3 separate regions of the Homo sapiens genome follow, and all the other regions are reported to be linked to region 1. Evidence: microRNA targets listed by miRTarBase, many of them from high-throughput screens and not tested one by one. Region 1 holds a microRNA gene; each other region holds the end of a gene's coding sequence.
The links. The annotated mature microRNA hsa-miR-514a-3p reads AUUGACACUUCUGUGAGUAGA and lies in region 1 at 2,441-2,461, shown strand. An mRNA with a match to its seed (bases 2 to 7 or 8) in the 3' UTR can be bound and repressed. Matches are read on the target gene's strand: a 7mer-m8 pairs with bases 2 to 8, a 7mer-A1 pairs with bases 2 to 7 and ends in A, and an 8mer does both.

Region 1 (4,152 bases):
AGAGGCAAAACTTTCTGTCTTCAAAAAGCTGATATGCTATTGGTACAAATATACAAGAAGTAATAACTGAATAGAATGTTAACTATGTGTTATAGCTTTAAGTACTATAGAGAAACAATAAAACGAATTGAGGTTTGGGCAGTACGGCAGAGAGGAAGAGGTGTGCAATTTCAAATGAGGTGGTCAGAGAAGACTACTCTAGGAAAGCACTATGGAGCAAAGTTTTGTATTAAGTTAAGGAGTCGAACCAATCTCTAATCTCTCAATGCTTCTAAGACAGTCCTTCTTCCCTGGCAGTGAAAGGGAATCTCAGTTTTTCCTGTCTATCTTTTTTGATGTCCATACCCATCTGCAGCCCACTACAGTTGCATCCTGTTCCAAGGGATTTTATGTCACAAATTCAGGGGACTGTTGAGGCACTTTGGTTTTAGAGGTGAAAAGGAAAGAACAACATACAGACAAAGACTCTGTCAAGCTGTGTAGCATAATCCCAAGGCAGTGGAATATGAGGTGAAGAGAATAAGAAGACAGTGGGTGTTGCCATGATGTTTTAGGTGGAGGGGGTTTTCTCTCCCTGGGAAGTTTCCAAAAAATGCCAGTAAGAAATTGAAGATATTTTAATGTATTCTTTTGCCAGCACTGAATATCCTTGACCACGAGGAAAACGGATCAGAGACTGAAACATGAGTTTCTTGTCTTAAAAAGTTGCAGCTGCCTGTTAAACTGATTGTGGCTGTGCACAGGTATGTCTGAAAGAATGAATCTAAATTCTTATCCTCTATCAGCCTAAAGCCAGCACATGGCTATGATGACTGATGTATGTGCTTCTGCATGTTTACTGGATGGAATAGAGAATGGCCCAGCACAAGACAACATGGTGGTAAGAGAAGAGAGAAGGGTGAATTGGACAGGCAGATTACAGTCAAGCTCTCCGATAACAAAACTTATCAGTGTCCACAGGAGATTGGGGCTTCCTCTACTATAACCTATTTTCTCTCCCTTGAGAAATGGAGGGGAAGGTGGTGTTTCTTCACTTTTGGCAAGCTTCACAGAGAAAATAGAGGCGAAAAGTGGCCAGTGGGCCTTAAGGCATTCAGTTAAGATGAGGAATGTGGGGGTTAATAATGCTGAGAAGAGTTGACATCTTCTTAGAAATACTAGTACTTTTTGGAAAGATGCTGGGCTTCCTGAAGCTATAAATATAGGCTTCGTATTTTTCAAATAAAAGAAGGAAGATTTCAAGATGTTCAGGCATTGAGATGATTTCCTTTAGTATTCATTGTTGTTTCAATAAAAACTTATAAACTAGGGATGATGTTTCTCAAACTTTCCCACTTCCATATTTAAAAATACTTTCAGCCTGTAGCTGCTAAGTTCTAAAACAAACTCCAATTTAAGGCTGTGAATCTTTTTACTTGACTTTCCTTCTAACCCCTTAATGCCAATTACATATATACGTGTAAGTAACATGTAAATACATATGCATATACATAATATAGATGCAATTACATATATATGTAATTAACATGCATATACATAATACAGCTGCTTTTTAGTGCACACTTGTGTGAGTTTAGATGAATGTGAAATTTGTATAACAATAAAAATTCAATTTTTAAGAAGCCTACAAGATGTGCTGGAGTTAAAACTTCTTTCAGTCCCTGGACTCTAGAAATATTTGTTCTTCTGTAATTTGTTGTACCAGGTTCAGTAGTCCTAGGGAAATGCAGACACCAAATAGCATGTGTGTTGGATAACAAAATGCAAAAACATGCTCTAAACAACCTTGCTCCAGGAATAGACTAAGAAAATTTCTAAGTTGCGAGTTATATGAGGGCATCTCTAGACCACAAGCTCATATCTGTCTTATAGATCACTTCCAGTAAGTAAAATGGGCTTCTTTTTACTCCAGAGTCTAAGAAAGAAAATAAATTTCTATTATCTCCACCACAGCAATCACAGATTATTTTCCTTCTTTTTGCTTTCAGGATCTTGTGTGTTTTCACCACTTACTTTGTGGTTCCAGAGTAGAGGTAAGTAACTTAGGTAAAGGGCCTCAGATCTTTTAAGACTGGAGTTAAGCATTTTCTGCTTAACTGTTGGATCTGAGGACTGCATACTGCTGATTCATTGCAAGAAAAGCATGCAAGAATATTTCTTTCATGAGCAAGAGAACCTAGACAAAAAGTTCTGAAAACTGCCATGTAAAACCCATGACACATGAGGGGATAGCACTCAAGAGGGATGAATGAAGAAAGACAAGCGGAGTGGGTATTGCATAGGTTATTTGGACAACTGTCAGCGTCTACTCACAGCCTGAAAGCATTGAGAAGTTGTTTCAAAAGTGCACAAATGGGTGCTTAGGGAGGGCTTCCATCCTTAAACATGTTGTCTGTGGTACCCTACTCTGGAGAGTGACAATCATGTATAACTAAATTTGATTGACACTTCTGTGAGTAGAGTAACGCATGACACTTACGACAGACAATGGCACTGTGGGTGCATTGAGGGTGTTTTATTGTACACAGAGGGAAGCTTTCTCTAAAGTGCAGGTATAACACCTCTTCAAACCCCTAGTGCTGGCCTCCCTCAAGGGAAGCCTCTTAAGTGCCTTTCAGAGGCCACTGATTTGTTCAACAGGAAATCATCAAGCACATCATACTGTATATCAGTGCTGCAAATACAGTAGTGTAAAGGGAGAGGCAAAACTTTCTGTCTTCAAAAAGCTGATATGCTATTGGTACAAATATACAAGAAGTAATAACTGAATAGAATGTTAACTATGTGTTATAGCTTTAAGTACTATAGAGAAACAATAAAACGAATTGAGGTTTGGGCAGTATGGCAGAGAGGAAGAGGTGTGCAATTTCAAATGAGGTGGTCAGAGAAGACTACTCTAGGAAAGCACTATGGAGCAAAGTTTTGTATTAAGTTAAGGAGTCGAACCAATCTCTAATCTCTCAATGCTTCTAAGACAGTCCTTCTTCCCTGGCAGTGAAAGGGAATCTCAGTTTTTCCTGTCTATCTTTTTTGATGTCCATACCCATCTGCAGCCCACTACAGTTGCATCCTGTTCCAAGGGATTTTATGTCACAAATTCAGGGGACTGTTGAGGCACTTTGGTTTTAGAGGTGAAAAGGAAAGAACAACATACAGACAAAGACTCTGTCAAGCTGTGTAGTATAATCCCAAGGCAGTGGAATATGAGGTGAAGAGAAAAAGAAGACAGTGACTGTTGCCATGATGTTTTAGGTGGAGGGGGTTTTCTCTCCCTGGGAGGTTTCCAAAAAGTGCCAGTAAGAAATTGAAGATATTTTAATGTATTCTTTTGCCAGCACTGAATATCCTTGACCACAAGGAAAACGGATCAGAGACTGGAACATGAGTTTCTTGTCTTAAAATGTTGCAGCTGCCTGTTAAACTGATTGTGACTGTGCACAGGTATGTCTGAAAGAATGAATCTAAATTCTTATCCTCTATCAGCCTAAAGCCAGCACATGGCTATGATGACTGATGTATGTGCTTCTGCATGTTTACTGGATGGAATAGAGAATGGCCCAGCACAAGACAACATGGTGGCAAGAGAAGAGAGAAGGGTGAATTGGACAGGCAGATTACAGTCAAGCTCTCTGATAACAAAACTTGTCAGTGTCCACAGGAGATTGGGGCTTCCTCTACTATAACCTTTTTTCTCTCCCTTGAGAAATGGAGGGGAAGGTGGTGTTTCTTTCTTTTTGGTAAGCTTCACAGAGAAAATAGAGGCAAAAAGTGGCCAGTGGGCCTTAAGGCATTCAGCTAAGATGAGGAATATGGGGGTTAATAATGCTGAGAAGAGTTGACATCTTCTTAGAAATACTAGTACTTTTTGGAAAGATGCTGGGCTTCCTGCAGCTATAAATATAGGCTTCGTATTTTTCATATTAAAGAAGGAAGATTTCAAGATGTTCAGGCATTGAGATGATTTCCTTTAGTATTCATTGTTGTTTCAATAAAAACTTATAAACTAGGGTTGATGTTTCTCAAACTTTCCCACTTCCATATTTAAAAATACTTTCAGCCTGTAGCTGCTAAGTTCTAAAAGAAACTCCAATTTAAGGCTGTGAATCTTTTTACTTGAATTTCCTTCTAACCCCTTAATGCCAATTACATATA
Region 2 (4,000 bases), not on the chromosome of region 1:
AAAAAAAAATCAGATTTGTATTATTTGCTAATGTCATGATGTGTGAATATACTCCCACCATTGCTTCCACCACAATGTCTCATACAAGCTAATAGCAACGCAGCACTACTGAAATTTCTGATAGACTTACTATATGCTTTTCTACCTTTTACAGTAATTCACATTGAAATTTGCCAGAATACATCCACTAATGATCTGTATTTGAACTTTATAATTAAGTGGAGATGGCAGCATCTCTCTGTGTTTTATGCTACTTTAGATATTGGCTTAAGGTAAAGCTTTTGTTTTAGATTAACAACTGATGATCAGGTTCTGAATTGACCGCTGTTCCCTCATACATTGCATTTTTAAAGGGAGAAATTTGTTTTGTTTTTCAGGGATGAAGTCGAAGAAATAATTCTTATTTTGGTGAAAATAAAAGCTTTGAATCAAGCAGAATCCTTCATAGGAGAGCATCACCTAGACCATCTTAAATCACTAATTAAAGAAGATTGAATAAACTTTATTGGAAAATGCTAAAATTTTAATATAGTTACACTCAGTTCCTTTGTTTGAGAAGAAGCTGGTGCCTCTCTCTTCTTTATTCCCTGTAATAGAAGGTAGGATTTGAAAAAAAGCAGGACTCCACCTCTGTATTCCCCCGTGCTTTACCTTCTGGCATCATGAAAAGCTGCCATGATTCTGTGGTGTTCTAAGGAATTAAATGCACTGGAGCTTTAAGAGCTCAACGTGTTTCCCTTTGATTCTTTTGGCTGGTCTTTCAATTTTCTTAAGAGGGGAACTGGAGAAACCTTGCTAAAGGTTTTAGCTTAAGTGAGCATGCTACTAAGTCTTCTGTCCTGAACCACAATAATATCTTTTAGTTCTCTTTAACTACCTTTATTTAAAAATAAGTCAATATGAAAATCTCAGTTGGAGTGAATTATTTGCTAAGTATTAAATGATTAAGGCATGTGCCGATTGTCAAATTATCCTTCAGAAATCTGTACCAATTTAATGTACCAACATAAGCATAAGTGAGTGCCAATGAATCCCTACCAGCAGTAGTTATTATCCTTTTTAAAAATGCATTGAAAATTTGAAAGGTAAAAATCTTATTTTAATAGCGTATTTTGTGTTGGCTATTAGAGAGTAAACATATTGGTTTTGGCCATTTGTAATTATTTCTGAAATATCCATCTTTTTCTTATGGACTTTAAGACCTTTATATTTTTAAAGATATTGATTTTTTGCCCATGCTTGTGGCAGAAGTTTTCCTTATTTGCCATTTTTCTTTTATTTTTTTTTTAATTGTATTTTTTGAGACAGGGTCTGGCTCTGTCACCCAGGCTGGAGAGTAGTGGCACAATCTCGGCTCACTGCAACCTCTGCCTTCTGGGCTCAAGCAATCCTCCCACTTCAACCTCCCAAGTAGCTGGGACTATAGGCATGCGCCACCATGCCCAGCTGATTTTTGTAATTTTTTGTAGAGATGGGGTTTCGTGACATTGCCCAGGCTGGTCTCGAACTCTTGAGCTCAAGCAGTCTACCCACCTTGACCTCCCAAAGTGCTGGGATTACAGGCTTGAGCAACCATGTTTGGCCTTTCTTTTAAATTTGTTGATGTTTTTTGAAGCATTAAGTCATTACTTATTAGCAAGTTACTATTTTGTTTTTTTGTCATTGGTGGTAGGACTAAGAAGGAAACAGATATTTTAAATACTCACAACATGTGATTCATTTTCTGATAAAATATTTGTCTAATAAAACAGAGGCAAGATAATTTAATCAAAAGAAATTAAGAAAATTTTCCAAAAATGTTAGTTTACTAGTAATTTTTCTAAGTCTACTTATTAAATAACTTAAGGGAAACTGTAAATATATTTTGCAAATTGTTGTTCAAAAGATAATTGGAAAAAATTGAATATATTGTAGGATTTGAATATACAGCCTACTTTTATGTCACCTCTACCTTCAAAACTACATATAATTTATTTTAGGAGTTGGATTTGTTATGTCTGTTGCAGTGAGGACTTGTGATTCACTGGTATGAAGAATTTTTTGATGTTTATATTAGTAACAAAATTATACAAGGATAGAATCTCATCTAGAAAATGCAAACTATTGTTGAAAAGCAGTTAGCATTTCCACACAACCGCTGTCCCCAGAGATAACTGCTGTTTTCATTTTAATGTTATCCTTTTAGACCTTTTCTCTATTTACAAAAATGTTACGTGTTTCTATGTGTACATAGTTTTGGGTTTTTTTTTTTTTTTTACGTAAGTGGCAGACACTTTATTGCACATGAAATTTGTAATTTTTTTCTATTTAAGTACACATTTGGAAATTATCCTCTGACTTTTGGATTTTTAACTAAATATGTTGGACGTGTTCCTTTATATATTTAAGTTCAGCACAGAAACTTTCCTACCTTTTTGTGGAAGATAAAATATTAAAACTGCTTTCAAAACTACAAATTGACTTAAACTGCTATAGTAATTTTCAATTAAATTTCATTATACCTGGAGTTTGAACGTTAAGGTTTTTATCATATACTGTAATTCAAAAATTTACCTAAATCTCAATGTAAAATTCTTTTTTTTCTTATTACTATGAAATGGATGGAATAAGGAGGGGGAACACAACTAGCAAGAACAAAACATTGGGTTGGCAATTGATATCACATCTTAATTCTTTCCCTGAATTTCTTTCAGCTTTTTGTTCACATAAAGAATGTGAAATTTTTACAGAATCAGACAGATGACTTTAAAGAAATTTTTTTCATGATGGAAAAATCACCTCAATTGATTTTTCCATTTCTTAGGTCCTTGAATAAATGATACTTAGGTATACCTCAGAAATGCCATATATGATACAAATCCTGCAAAAGACATCATGAGAAAATACCAGCAGTATCTATCATGAATGTAGAAATAAAAGTCCTTAAAATAATTAGCAAATCAAATCCAGCAATGTATAAAAAAGATAATAGGGTTTATTCCTGGAAAGTAAGGTTGTTTTAACATTAGTCAACCAGTGTAATCACTCACGAACAGAATAAAGGAGAAAATCCACATCTCGATGACTGCAGAACCAATCATCTCAATTATTACCGAAAAAGTGTTTGACAAAATTCAGCACCCCCTCATACTACAAAAACCTTTCGGCAAAGTAGGAATATAAATTCCTCAATCTGATAAAAGGCATCTGTGAGAAAAATCTATACCTAACATCATATATAATGGTGAAATATTAAAGCAAGGATGTCTGCTCTCACCATTTCTGTTCAACATTGTTCTAGAAGACATAGTCATACAATCAGTCAAGATAAAAGAAGGCATAAACATTGAAACACAAGAGTTAAGATAGTCATTAGTTGGCCAGACATCCCAACACTTTGTGAGACTGAGCTGGGAGGATCGTTTGAGGCCAGGAGTTCAAGATCAGCCTTGGCAACAAGCTTGTTGTAAACATTAAGAGAAATGAAATGTCTTGTACAGCATCGGCACATAGGAGCCTTCTAATGAGGAGCCTATCCCTGAAAAAGTGAAAGATATATCATTTTTCTAATCCTTCGAATAGGATAAACTAAGTTTTTGATCTCTCTGAGTTATTCAAAAGGCTCAGGGATTTATTTCCCATCACAACACTACAAGGTAGTTTAGAAAATATACATACTTGAGCAACATGGTGGAGTAGGCACATTGAAAAACAAGCAGGGGCTGGGTGTGGTGGTTCACGCGTGTAATTGCAGCACTTTGGGAAGCTGAAATGAGAGGATGGCTTGAGGCCAGAAGTTCAAGACCAGCCTGGTCAGTATAGTGAGACCCCAATCCCTAAAAAATATATATATATTTTTTAAAGCAGGAACAGGCATAGCCAATTTTATCAGAACTCTGAAAAACAGTAAAAAGTTTATAGCAATGAAGCAAATGCTGAGTCAAGAACAGGCAACTTTAAAATGGCAAGAAAGCTTTGTGACATTTCTGCTTGCCCTTCCCCCACAAGCTCCCTGGTGTTG
Region 3 (4,000 bases), not on the chromosome of region 1:
CTCAGAGACCGTGACACAGGGCGGTGGGCCTGGTAGTCAAAGCCTTTTCTGAAAGATTTCATCTGGCCCAGTGCGGTGGCTCACGCCTGTAATCCCAGCACTTTGGGAGGCCGAGGTGGGCGGATCATCAGGTCAGGAGATCGAGACCATTCTGGCTAACACAGCGAAACCCCGTCTCTACTAAAAAATACAAAAAAAATTAGCTGGGCATGGCGGCGGGCGCCTGTGGTCTCAGCTACTCGGGAGGCTGAGGCAGAATGGCACCAACCCAGGAGGTGGAGCTTGCAGTGAGCCGAGATTGTGCCACTGTACTCCAGCCTGGGCAACAGTCTCCAAAAAAAAAAAAAGATTTCATCTTAGGTGACTGATGACTGTTCAAAAGGAAAAAACCTGCAAAAATTGGGAGTTGTGCAACTGACTGACAAGAATGTAGATTCCAGGGCAAGAACTGTGGGCCTGGGGGTGGTCAGGATGTGTGGGATAGCAGTTTAGGGGACTGTCATCAGCTGGGTTTGCTTAGTAGCCTGGAGCCTTCGCGCCTCCTAACCGCACTGTTTTCCCCTCTGGCCACTCCTTTCAGAAGACTCCAGCACCAGCCTGTTCAAAGACCTCAACAGTGCGCTGGCAGGCCTGCCTGAGGTCAGCCTGAACGTGGACACTCCATTTCCACTGGAAGAGGAGCTGCAGATTGAACCCCTGAGCCTGGACGGACTCAACATGTTAAGTGACTCCAGCATGGGCCTGCTGGACCCCTCTGTTGAAGAGACGTTTCGAGCTGACAGACTGTGAACAGAAGGCAGTGGAACAGAAGAATGTTTTTCTGCAACAGCCAAAATAGAATGGAATAGAATGAAGCCAGCTGATACCACGGGCTTTCGTTATCTTGACATAGAAGGAAGCAATGCCACGGCTCCAGGGTTTCAGATGAGATCCCATCTCAGACACTGTGGCTTCCTCCAGATCACACAGCTTTGTACTGCCTCTCCCGCCTGTGGCCAAAGTCGTGTTGCAGCAGGCAGGCTGCTTGGAGCTTCCCATGAACTGGAAAGCTCACCTCCACTGCATCTTTTTACTGGCCATCCAGTCAGCCGATGTGTAAGAGTAGGAAATACTGTGTCACTGGAGGCCTCCGTAGCATTGTGTAGTGTGCTCAGAACCACTGATCTCCGTCCGCACCGAAGGCGGGCCCGGAGTGGGAGGCTCGGCCTGGGGCGGCGGCACCGGAGAGGGCACCTCGATGCCTGCTCTGACCTGACCCAGAGGGCGAGGCCCTCCAGCGGGGGACATTCCCAGGCTGAGTGGACCCCACGGCTCTCTCCCACGCCTGGATTACGACATGAAGTTTTTACCACAAGCCCGAGGGCAGGCTTGAGTTAGGCAGACTGAAGGCTAATTTTCATTTTCTCCCAGCTGGTTTCTGCTGCTTCAGAAAAGTACACCTTTTCCTTATGGACCAGAGGAAGAGGAAGACCATTTTATCAGTCACTGAAAAGAGTCCCCTGGCACTGATGAGCCTGAAGAGAACTGTGCTCCTCCTCGGGGGCTGGGGAAGGAAGACAGGGACTGCAGGTGTCTCATACTCAGTGGCCTCCAGACAAACTCCAGACAAGCACAGACCTCCCCACTAAGAGCAGCCAGAGGGAGCTGGTGAGGCCCTAACCCCACCCACCGAGCAACTGAGCTTCCCCATCCCTCCCCAGAGCTGTGTCTCTGTGGGCTGGGAGTCTAATGTCACCCCCCTAGACCGTAAGCTCCTTGAGGGCAGGGACAGTGCCTTATCATTGTTGAACCCGTAGCACCTAACACGTGCGTGGCAGCACAGTCGTGTGCTGGAGTGAGTGCTGCAGAACCGTGCGTGCAGCGCATGATGAATGAGTGCGTCCGCCATGCCGTAAGGCAGGCTCACCTGTAGCTATCCCCTTCCCTGCCAGATCTTCTCAGAGCTTTAGCTTTTCTAGCACTCGTGCCTATGGTGAAGCATGCACTTTAATATGCTTTTAACACTAGGTGACCAAATCACAGTGAAGCCGGGCACTGCATTCTCCTTGGGCTGTGCTCCACGCGGGTGGGTGGGAGCTGTCTTCTGAGTACATCCGGAAGGGCTGAGCAGGTGAGTGCCCTGAGCATCCTGGCTGGGCCCCACCCAGGAAGATCTTCCTTCTCAGATCCACGTTTGGCTCTAAATTGCTTCAAGTAGAGATTCATTCTTTGAGGTTGAAAAAATAGTTTATAGTAAAACGAAGGCCTAATTCATGGAAGCATCATTAGTCATCAATACCTTCTCATAAAATAGATGGGCCAGATTTCCACCACCGCCTGCCTCCTCTAACTTGGGTGATGCCAGTAGGTTTGAAGGGGGCAGAGCACTGCAGGGGGAGGGGGGGGTCTAGGCTGTGAGAGGACAGGGTGGAGAGGAGGAGAACCCTGAAGGAGAGACGGAAGATGCCAGGACCTTTGCTTGGACAGCCATTGCCCTTCCAGGAGACCCTGGAGTGTACTGAGGGTTGCTGGACTGTTCCACCCAGAGGAGCAAGGCTGTACAATGAGGGTCTGAATCTGGCACACCTGTCCCTTATGTAAAAGGAGTCGTGGTCACAAGACCCTGGGCTGGTTAGCCTCTCCCGACCTCATTCCATTTCTATCTTCTGACCTTGCCTCTCATCTTTAAAATAACCCTCATGGGGTGCCCCTCCACCTTCCTCTGGAATCCAAGTATTCCTGTTTCACATTTGCCCCAAATCTTTGCTGTGGAATTGGGAAATCAAACCAGAGTCCTCCTCGCCTGATTTCCAGCTCAGGAAGGGCCTGCTGGCCTGCCCTGTTCCCAGTTACACTTTCAGATCCCTTTGTGCTCAAGATCTCAGAGGGGGTGGCTTTTTGTTAAAGAGCCTTCAGTCGCAATGCTACCCAGCACCCCATGTGCCAAAAGAAACCAGCTCCTGTGTCAAAGGGCTTCCAAACCTGATCTCACTCTCAACAGGCGATGGTGCTGATGTTTCAAGAATTGTGTTTTTATAAAACAGAGGTCTCAGCATAGTCACTCTTCACATAGTGCCTTACCCATGGGTATCGTCATATCCGGGTCCCAGTTCAGTTTGTCTGCACAGCAGCCACCCTGCCTGGCAACAGAGACCCCAAGACCTACACAGTGAACCCTACTGCCCCAAAGGCGTTCTCCAGGTGACTTGTGAAAACAGACCTCCGGGGAAGTGATTTATTGGGGGTGTACACTGGGGGCAATATGGTTTAGCACTGAATTCAATTTGTCCTTAGGTCTATGAGTGAGTCCGATCTTTTCTTGTGAAAGGTTTTGGGCATCGTACAACCCACTCTGCCTAGAAGGTGTGGAGGACTCACCACGGGCAGGGTCGCCCTGGCCCACAGCACGTGAGCCTGCACTCACTGCGGCCTTTGTAACAAAACCAGTTGTGGTCCTCAGCATTTGAAGCAGCTGCATACTTCAGAGTAAACTATTTTTCATTATTTAGTTTTGTCACAAGAAATCGACCATTGTACTACTCTCACTTACAGCAGTTAAACAGCATAGAACTAAAAACCTGTCTGCATTTCCATTTTTTCTTTCTGTATGGTTGTGGGTTTTAGGACATAGGGGGTTAGGAGAAGGGGTTTCTTGATCATGTCATGAATTCTCCTTTGTCCTGTTTCTCCTGTTTCATTTCTCCTCCGCCTGCTGTATATTACCTGAGCTGGTGTTGTATCTTCAAGTCCATATGCGTATTTGCAGACCTTTCCTGTTCCCACTCTTGTTGGCTCTTCTGATTTATGCACAGATGGTTCCCAGCATGTGTCCAGTGCTTCATGGATGGGACCATCCCAGCAACTAATCAGACTTCCTGCCAGTGTCCTAACCCCCAGGGCACCCTGTTCAACCATATTTAAAAATTGGAATTTGTATAAAGTTGCTTCCAAGTTTTATAATGCATCATTTTACATCTTTTGTAATTAAAAGCATCACAATGAGGTTGTCTCTGCATTTGGT

Region 2: the mRNA of GCFC2 is a reported target of hsa-miR-514a-3p. Seed matches in the 3' UTR shown: 7mer-A1 at 962-968.
Region 3: miRTarBase lists CRTC3 as a target of hsa-miR-514a-3p. Seed matches in the 3' UTR shown: 8mer at 2,942-2,949.

What each region holds. Positions count from the first base shown.
Region 1 is chrX:147,280,266-147,284,417 of GRCh38, reverse strand. MIR514A2 (microRNA 514a-2) reads left to right here and starts at 2,388; the gene lies at 2,388-2,475. It overlaps LOC101928863 (a long non-coding RNA gene), which reads left to right. Exons shown (of 4, transcript XR_001755997.2): 3 at 638-743; 4 at 1,989-2,033.
Region 2 is chr2:75,661,161-75,665,160 of GRCh38, reverse strand. It overlaps GCFC2 (GC-rich sequence DNA-binding factor 2), which reads left to right. Exons shown (of 17, transcript NM_003203.5): 17 at 378-2,456. The coding sequence ends at 495. It overlaps MRPL19 (mitochondrial ribosomal protein L19), which reads right to left. Exons shown (of 6, transcript NM_014763.4): 6 at 2,955-4,000. Among named protein-coding and RNA genes, the nearest start is that of MRPL19, 16 kb to the right of the region's middle.
Region 3 is chr15:90,641,352-90,645,351 of GRCh38, forward strand. It overlaps CRTC3 (CREB regulated transcription coactivator 3), which reads left to right. Exons shown (of 15, transcript NM_022769.5): 15 at 581-3,994. The coding sequence ends at 789. The region is part of intron 2 of CRTC3-AS1 (CRTC3 antisense RNA 1); the gene reads right to left. Among named protein-coding and RNA genes, the nearest start is that of LINC01585, 17 kb to the right of the region's middle. RefSeq lists an enhancer at 1-572.